Homo sapiens: one gene and its partner. The protein of the gene in region 1 interacts with the protein of each later gene in a pairwise test. Each region holds a gene or a part of one and is shown in the gene's direction. Other genes may lie near its edges.

The links.
Region 2: the proteins of HEATR6 (region 1) and HUNK interact in a two-hybrid assay, tested with the Homo sapiens proteins (one large-scale study listed by BioGRID and IntAct).

Annotation. Positions count from the first base shown.
Region 1 is NC_000017.11:60,076,101-60,080,601, reverse strand, and holds the start of HEATR6 (HEAT repeat-containing protein 6), read left to right. Parts: upstream 1-1,680; 5' UTR 1,681-1,687; coding exon 1,688-1,906; intron 1,907-4,364; coding exon 4,365-4,472; intron 4,473-4,501. UniProt on the Homo sapiens protein: Amplification-dependent oncogene.
Region 2 is NC_000021.9:31,917,979-31,921,790, forward strand, and holds part of HUNK (hormonally up-regulated neu tumor-associated kinase), read left to right. Parts: intron 1-3,812.

The DNA of each region.
Region 1 (4,501 bases):
CTTCACAAGGCTTCTCAGAAACTCCTGAGGACTGAACAATCAGTCACCCCTTGCAATGGCCAACTCAATAGCACATATTGGTATTAATTCTCCTTCCTTCCCTGTTCATTTCTGGATAAATCCCTCACCTATCAACCTCATCTGAGGCTCTGCTATCAGGGAACCCAGATTAAAATATCCAACGACTAGGTTTCAGCTCCTGATCTTCTCTGAACAAATGCTTGAATACATTTCTTTACACGAATACACACACACACATGCACATATATAACGCACATATGTACACAGACTAGGAATAAGAAATAATATACCAGCACAACGGAATCTAAATCCAAACAAAAAAATTAACATTTCTCCCCAAGCCCAAAGTCTTCAGAAAACTACCTCTGCTAAAGCATACCCCCAATTTTCACTGCTGAACAGAAATGTTTTGTTCTCAGGATAAAACATACATTCAGGTGACTTCAAGGTTTTCCCTAAGGGCCAAGGGTGAGGATTTGCTTTATATTTGCATAACTCAAAGGCCCTAGAGATGGTTTTCCCAATCTGCCCAACTGTGAAAGTCAAGCCTTCACTTCCTGGATGACTGAAAAGTGATCACAGATTTTTAAATGGCCATTTTATTCTCCAGCTTCTTGACTTCAAGGTTTCAGAAAATCTTGGGGTGTCTCATTTCAACCCGGTCACTCTTAGGCAGATTATATTTTACATGATTCAGTTAAACTCCAAAATTACTCTTCTAGTGGGGCGAGGTGCCTCATGATCCATGAGAGGATTCACACTGGGAAAAAGGGAGAAAAAGGAACCAAGAGTACAGCCAGCTGTCACTTAAGTAGGGAAAGCTGCCTTATATTCCACTGACCAGATTGCAATCACAGAGCCACAGCCAACTGCAAGGAATGCTAGGGAACGTAGCCTTTATTCCGGGTGGTTTTGTGCCTGGGGAAAGATTTTAGAAGAGTAGAAGGGTGCCTTAGAACTAGCGGTTTCTGCTACTGCCATCCACAGCATACCCTCTCCAACTCCAGCCCGAATCTGAAACTCTAGTACGGAACAGAGTACCTTCAGCCCTGTCCAGGAACAAACTCTGGGAGGACAAACTTTCTGGAAGCACAAATTGAGAACTCACTTTTCAGTCAGGGCTCAAGAAGGAGTGGCCGGCGAAAAATCTCCAAGCCAATTTCTTTCTTTTTTTTTTTTTCTGAGACGGAGTCTCGCTCTGTCGCCCAGGCTGGAGTGCAGTGGCGCGATCTTGGCTCATTGCAAGCCCTGCCTCCCGGGTTCACGCCATTCTCCTGCCTCAGCCTCCCGAGTAGCTGGGACAACAGGCGCCCGCCACCACTCCCGGCTAATTTTTTTTTTTTTTTTTTTTTTGTATTTTTAGTAGAGACGGGGTTTCACCGTGTTAGCTAGGATGGTCTCGATCTTCTGACCTCGTGATCCGCCCGCCTCGGCCTCCCAAAGTGCTGGGATTACAGGCGTCAGCCACCGAGCCCGGCCTCCAAGCCAATTTCTGACAAGCATCTGCAGGGTACCGGTCGGAGGAGTCCCGTAGTCATGGAAACCCCTCTGAGCCCCAGTCCGGTCTAAAAAAGGTACTTTCGGAACTAGAGCGCGCGGAACGGGAGGATGTCCCGGAAGTATTTCCCTGGGATCACCCCACCCACCCCCCCCGCCCGTAGAAAAGATGGCTGCTGTGCAAGTTGTCGGTTCGTGGCCTTCCGTGCAGCCGCGGGAGGCACCGCGGGAAGCAATCCCTGAGCGAGGCAATGGGTTTCGCCTCTTGTCTGCCAGGCTCTGCGCCCTGCGCCCGGATGACAGCAGCTCCGCCCGCACCGAGATCCACCTGCTCTTCGATCAGCTCATCTCCGAGAACTACAGCGAGGGCAGTGGCGTGGCCCCGGAGGTAGGCGGCGCGCCCTGCTGGCCCCGGCCCCGGCCCCACCCCTCCGGGAACCCAGCTGGTGGCCTCTGCCTGCCTTTCCCTGATCTTCCCACTCTCGCGCCTGATGATTTAGTTTCAGGATGGCGTGCCCCCTCCAACCTTGGCACATTCTTAGTTCTCCATTTGGAAGACCCTGCAGTGCTTGGCACGCTCGAGTCATTCAAAACCCAACTTGACGACTCCTGCTCTGATAATGCCTCGGGTTTCCTCTCTGATACCAACTTTCCATCCGCCCGCACCCTCCTTCACTCCCTCTCTGTGCACCCAGAACACTTGGTTGACAAAATGCATTACTACTGTTTATTGCGTACATGGTACACGGACCACGTGGGAATCTTAGAACTTGCGTAGTATTAGGGCTTGTTTGCTAATGAAAATACTGAAGCTCGTAAAAATACAGTATACAAAACTCTGCCACAAAGCCCCTATGTTTTCTGTTCCTACACACTAGCTCCTCCCCTCTGCCGTCTTTCTGAGTAATCTTACACACATCAGGCCTTAAATTAATGAATTCTCTGAACTGTTGACACCATGGCCTTCTGGCCCTACGTAGGAAAGAGGGAAGTGGTGCAAGTTGCCTGCTTGCACAGGCATCTCAAACTAGACAGTTCCTAAAGATGAAATTCATTAGCTCCAAACACGCATTCCCGTCCCCAGTCCATCCCACCTTCCAACACACATGCATCATCCACCAAGTCACACCAGACACAAACACTGGTTCTTCCCTCCTTCATCCCAGATCCTGACCAACTCAGGTATTTCAGAATGTGTCTCATATATATTTCTCAGTTCATCCCCTCCTGTCTATTCCCATAGCGAGTGCCTTAGACCTCAGGCAAGGCGACTTATGCCTGGACTGTTCGCTGATCCCCTCTGACTGATCTCCTGCCTCCTGTCTAGCTCCTCTCCAAGCCAGTCATTCCTCCAATGCCAGAATGATCTTTTCTTTAGGAGGAAAAAAAATTGTTCATAAACTTTAAAATCTGCTTTGGAAAAGTCTTCAATACGTATTGGTAAATGGTTGAAGCAAGTTGCAGGACAATTCATACAGAATGAGATCAGTATGAAGCTGGAGGAGGGATTTTAAAATATGTGTGTTTATATATGCAAAGTAAAAGGTCTGAAAGAATTGACTACAGAATAATAGTGTATGTCATTAGGAAGCAGAGTGAGATTAAGGCAGTAGTCGGGGACTTTTGCTGTATTTGTGTAATTGGATACTTTTGCAACAAAACTTCCATTCTCTCCTGTTACTCCCCCTTTTGTTCCTGTGTGCAGCCATTTAAAACTTGCTGTTCTTCAGGCACCTACTAGTGTTTCACACCTCCAGGTTTTTGCATACTCTGTCCACTTTGCTTGCAGTGTTTTTTGATGCCCTATCTGGCAAATTTCTCCTCATCCTTCAAATCATTCCAGATTCTGCTTTACAGTCACCTCCACAAGGCCTCCCTAATTACTGTTTCTGGACAGAGTTTGTACTTTATTCTTTCAGCACTTGATTCACCTTATTTTAATTATTTGTTGTGTTTCTTTCTCTCTCACTAGTTTGTGAGCTCTTTGAGGTTCAGGAACATGTTTGTTTTACCTTTGGAGCCCAAAGACCTAGCACACTATGACACATAGTAGGTGCTCAGAACCTTGTCATTCTATAAACATCGATGGATGAAGAGTGTGACTTGCAAATAGGTCCCTCTTTTTTTTTTTTTTTTTTTAAGAATTCCCTAATTATGCATAAAATCCATAGAAGTGTTAGGTCTGATTTTTCCCAATGGCATTGAAAATCTGGTTCACTTACCTTTTGATATTTTTAGCTTCAGTTTGTGCTTTCATACCCTAGAAGCCTTTTTCTGGTTATTTAATTATACTGTCTTTACATATAGAGAGCACAGAGTCTTCAGCCTGACCAAAACCGTACTGATTCTTTTCCTTTTTTTTTCTTTTTTCTTTTTTTTAAGAGACAAGGTCTCACTCTGTCATCCAGACTGGAGTGCAGCAGCAAGATCATAGCTCACTGTGACCTAAAACTCCTGGGCTCAAGCCATCCTCCCACCTCAGCCTCCCAAGAAGCTGGGACTACATACCACCATATCCAGCTAATTTTTTTAAAAAAGTTTTTTCTGTAGAGATGGAGTCTCACTATGTTGCCCAAGCTGGTCTTGGACTCCTGGGCTCAAGCAGTCCTCCCGCTTTGACCTCCGGAAGAACTGGGATTAGGTGTGAGCCACTGTGCCTGGCTTTTTCCTTCTTTTTTAGCACATGCTGTTTTTGTGCTATCACTTCATTTTTTTCCTTCCTGCCTCACATTTTCTTTCCCCATTTTGAATGTGAATATTTACTTTTATTTTCCCATTTGGCTGTGTTTTGAGGATCTTCACTTGACTAATAAGTATTTTACCTCTTATCTTTTTTTTTTTGGTAGGACGTTAGTGCTCTTCTTGTCCAGGCTTGCCGACTGGTACCTCTTAATCAGAATCATCTTGTCAGCAAAGTGAGCCAGCTTATCCACCATTTACTTAACAGATTACAGGTAATCATGTATGTAACTCTAGAATTCAG
Region 2 (3,812 bases), on another chromosome or scaffold:
AGAGATCCATTATTGCATTAGGCTTTACCCAGTTAGAGTCAGTGTTAGCTTTGTTTTGCCTGCAAACCTCTGATTACTGTCAAATTGAATTAGATGTCTCCCTTTGCTGATCACTGATTGACTTTTCCTTAATTTCCCATTCATTTTTTTTCCCCATTTCAGTTGTTATAGATGAAGTCGATTAAATGGTTTTGTGTAATCAAGAACGGCATTCCATTTCAGTATTATCAACTTGTAAGTATGGAGCTTGTAAGTCAGGGGGTGGATGAAAACAAGCTGATAATGAGCTGGTATTTGAAAATTGAGAGGGAGCTTAATAGGAAACCTTCTCCAAGGTGAGGTAGCTTAAGGGCTCAGGGTTTTCATGGAGGGAACCTTGATGGCAGAACTTGGGAATCAAGGTGTCAGATGATGGTAGGGCACACACCAGGGGTGTTAGTTTCCTGCAGCTGCTGTAACAAATGACCACAAACTTGGTGGCTTAAAACAACAGAAAGTGATTCCCTCACAGTCTGGAGGCTGGAAGTCCAAAATCAGTCTCATTGGAGATCAAGGTGTCAGTAGGGCCACGCTTCCTCCAGAGACCTAAGGGGAGACTTGGACTTTGCTTCTTCTCCCAGCCCCTGGTGGCTGCCATGGGCATCTCCTGGGCTTGTGGCCATGTTATTCTCTTGTCTCCGTCTTCACTTTGCTTTCTTCTCTGCTTGTCCATCTGATCCCCTCCGTCTTTTAAAGACATTTTTGATGGCATTTAGGACTCACCCAGTTAATCCAGGACAGCCTCCCCATCTGAAGACCATTAACTTCATCATGTCTGCAGAGTCCCATCCCCCTAAAGATGACATTTTCAGGTTCCAGGGATTAGGATGTGGGCCTATCTTTGGGAGGCCATTTTTCGACTTACCACACTGGGCCTGCTTCACGGAAGGCCTTGGTACGACGGCCCAAGGCCTGGGCTGGACTGAGTGGTATGAGGTTGAGGGGCTGGACTGAGCGGTATGAGGAGGAGGGGCTGGACTGAGCGGTATGAGGAGGAGGGGCTGGACTGAGCGGTATGAGGAGGAGGGGCTGGACTGAGCGGTATGAGGATGAGGGGCTGGACTGAGCGGTATGAGGAGGAGGGGCTGGACTGAGCGGTATGAGGATGAGGGGCTGGACTGAGCGGTATGAGGAGGAGGGGCTGGACTGAGCGGTATGAGGTTGAGGGGCTGGACTGAGCGGTATGAGGAGGAGGGGCTGGAATGAGTGGTATGAGGATGAGGGGCTGGATGGGGTTTCCAGGGGGTATTTCCCCAGCACCATAGATCACCTCATTGCCTTGTCCTTTCACCTTCAGGAAAGGGAGGAGGATGGGCTAGAGAAAGAGCAAGAAGTGAGAGAGTGGGGAGAAATGCTTGGAAATACTGCATTTGCACAGAAGTTGGAAGGTACAGGAAGAACTGCCTAAAGAAAAGCCTAGCATGCACCCTTAAGCCTGGCATGTGGGAACCAACACCAATTGTTAGGATGACTGTAATCGTACGGCTGTGATAATGAGGTCTAGATTCATGGAAAGAGCCACCTGGGCTGTCCTTTCTGTTCAGAGTGGTCTGCAGTGTAGACACTTGCTAACCAATTGTGGAGCTTCATAGGGTCCTATTTTGACATAGCTCATGGAGGTGCAAAACCCTGATATGGGCTGGTTCAGCCCTGGGAGTGGAGCCTGAGAGGGAGTTCGTGAAGACTCTGCTCTCCGTGGGTCTCATGGACGTGCGGGAGCAGAGGGGACGGTGGAGTCAATGAGGAATTGTCAGAGGCTCCTGAGACTACGCTGAAGGGCTAGAGTGAGGAGGAGAGAGAGGCTGCCGGTGAAAGGTGGCGTCATTCCCCACTGCCAAGGAGGGTCTCTCCATGCCTGGAAATGCGTCCCAAAGGGCATCAGATAGATTCCTTATATTTTCAGGGAAGCTATTTGTTCCTTGTGGCTGCTATAACAAATTACCACTCTGGTGGCTTAAAGTAACAAATTGATTCTCTCACAGTTCTGGAGGCCAGAAGTCTTAAAAAGTATTGGCAGGGCCACGCTCCCTCCAGAGACTCTAGGGGAGGATCCTTCCCTGCCTCTTCTGGCTTCCAGTGGCAGCCAACATTCCTTGGCTTGTCGCCCCTCACCCCAATGTCTGCCTCCTTCCTCCTGTGGCTGCCCCCTCTGCTTATTTGTGTGAAAACTCCTTCTTTCTCTATTTTATAAGGACACTTATGAGGACATTTAGGGCCTACCCAGGTAATCTAGGCTAATCTCATCTCAGAATTCTTCACTTAATAACTTCTGCAAAGACCCTTTTTCCAAATAAAGTCACATGATCCAGAGATTAGGCCATTATTCAACCTGGTACAGGCAATTGAAGAACTCAATAAGGTATCTTAACTATAATTGTGTACTCTGTTAAAAAGGCAGATTGTATTACTGCTGGGCCTTTAGACTTGTTTGTTTACAGTACTTGTAAGAATTTCATTGCCAGAGGGTGTAATTTTTTAGATACTGCCACACGGAGTGGAGCAAAGACAATGCCTAATTGTACTTTTCAGCATTCTTTTTTCTCCACCTCCCCAAGAGGATGGATATGAAATATGTGTGTGTCTATGTGTTTTTGGAGGGTAACAGTTAACAAAGCTGTTAGTTTAGCATCCCTTGAACTACTTGGGGCCAGACACAGCCAGAGTGTAACTTTACCTCCTGGGGGCTGAGAGCATCAGCCCGAGCTGACTTGAGGTAGTGCAGGCCCCATGCTGTGAGGTGTGGATGGCAGGGGCTCTTCTAGCCTGTCTGGTCCCCTTGGGGGCTGATTGACTCTTTGTTACTCCCATCTTTGGATTAAGGGCCTGAACCTCCCTATTAAAATGAGACTCTGGGCTGGGCACGGTGGCTCATTCCTATAATCCCCGCACTTGGGGAGGCCAAGGTGGGCGGATCACTTGAGGCCAGGAGTTTGAGACTAGCCTGGCCAACATGGCCAAACCCTGTCTCTACTAAAAATACAAAAATTAGCTGGATGTGGTGGCGGGTGCCTGTAATCCCAGCTACTCAGGAGGCTGAGGCAGGAGAATTGCTTGAACCCGGGAGGCAGAGGTTGCAGGGAGCCGCCAAGATTGTGCCACTGCATTCCAGCCTGGGCCACAGAGCGAGATTCCATCTCAAAAAAAAAAAAAAAAAAAAAAAAAAAAGAAGGAGACACTGCTCTATAGAGGAGATAATACATTATGCTGTTTATAGCCATCTTTGCTTTGGTGATTCCATTGGTTAGTCACTATTAGTCACTTGCTGTTTATGAAGCGCTGTGTGTCGTGAAGGGGGAGTGGTCCCTGCATTAAGCCATGACTTACATCTTACTGCAGATGCTGTTGTATAGGGACGTAGGGAAGGAAGGTGCGGGGGAGTCTCTCTGGTAGGGAGGTTAGCCTCTGAAGGACCTGGGGTTGGGGGCTTGAGTGGGGGAAGGGGGTGGCTGGAGTACCTGGAGAGTGATAGAATGCATGTCCCAGGGAGTGACAAGACATGCCAGGAGGGAGAGCTGGGAGGAGTTGGGACCGGGTGGTGGTGGGGCTGATGGAGAAGATGCTTGGGTGCTCCCATAGGCAGCAGTGAGACCTCAAGAGCTTCTGCAAGAAATCAGAGTTCTAGACCCACTGATTTGGAGGCAGAGTGTAGAATGAATTCAAGAGGCCAGGAGGAGCCTCAAGAAGAGGTGACATCCATGCCTTAGTTCACCCTGGGGGTGGCCAGACTTTTATTGATTCGTTCACTATTTTGTTTAATTTAAAGTTTGCCTTTA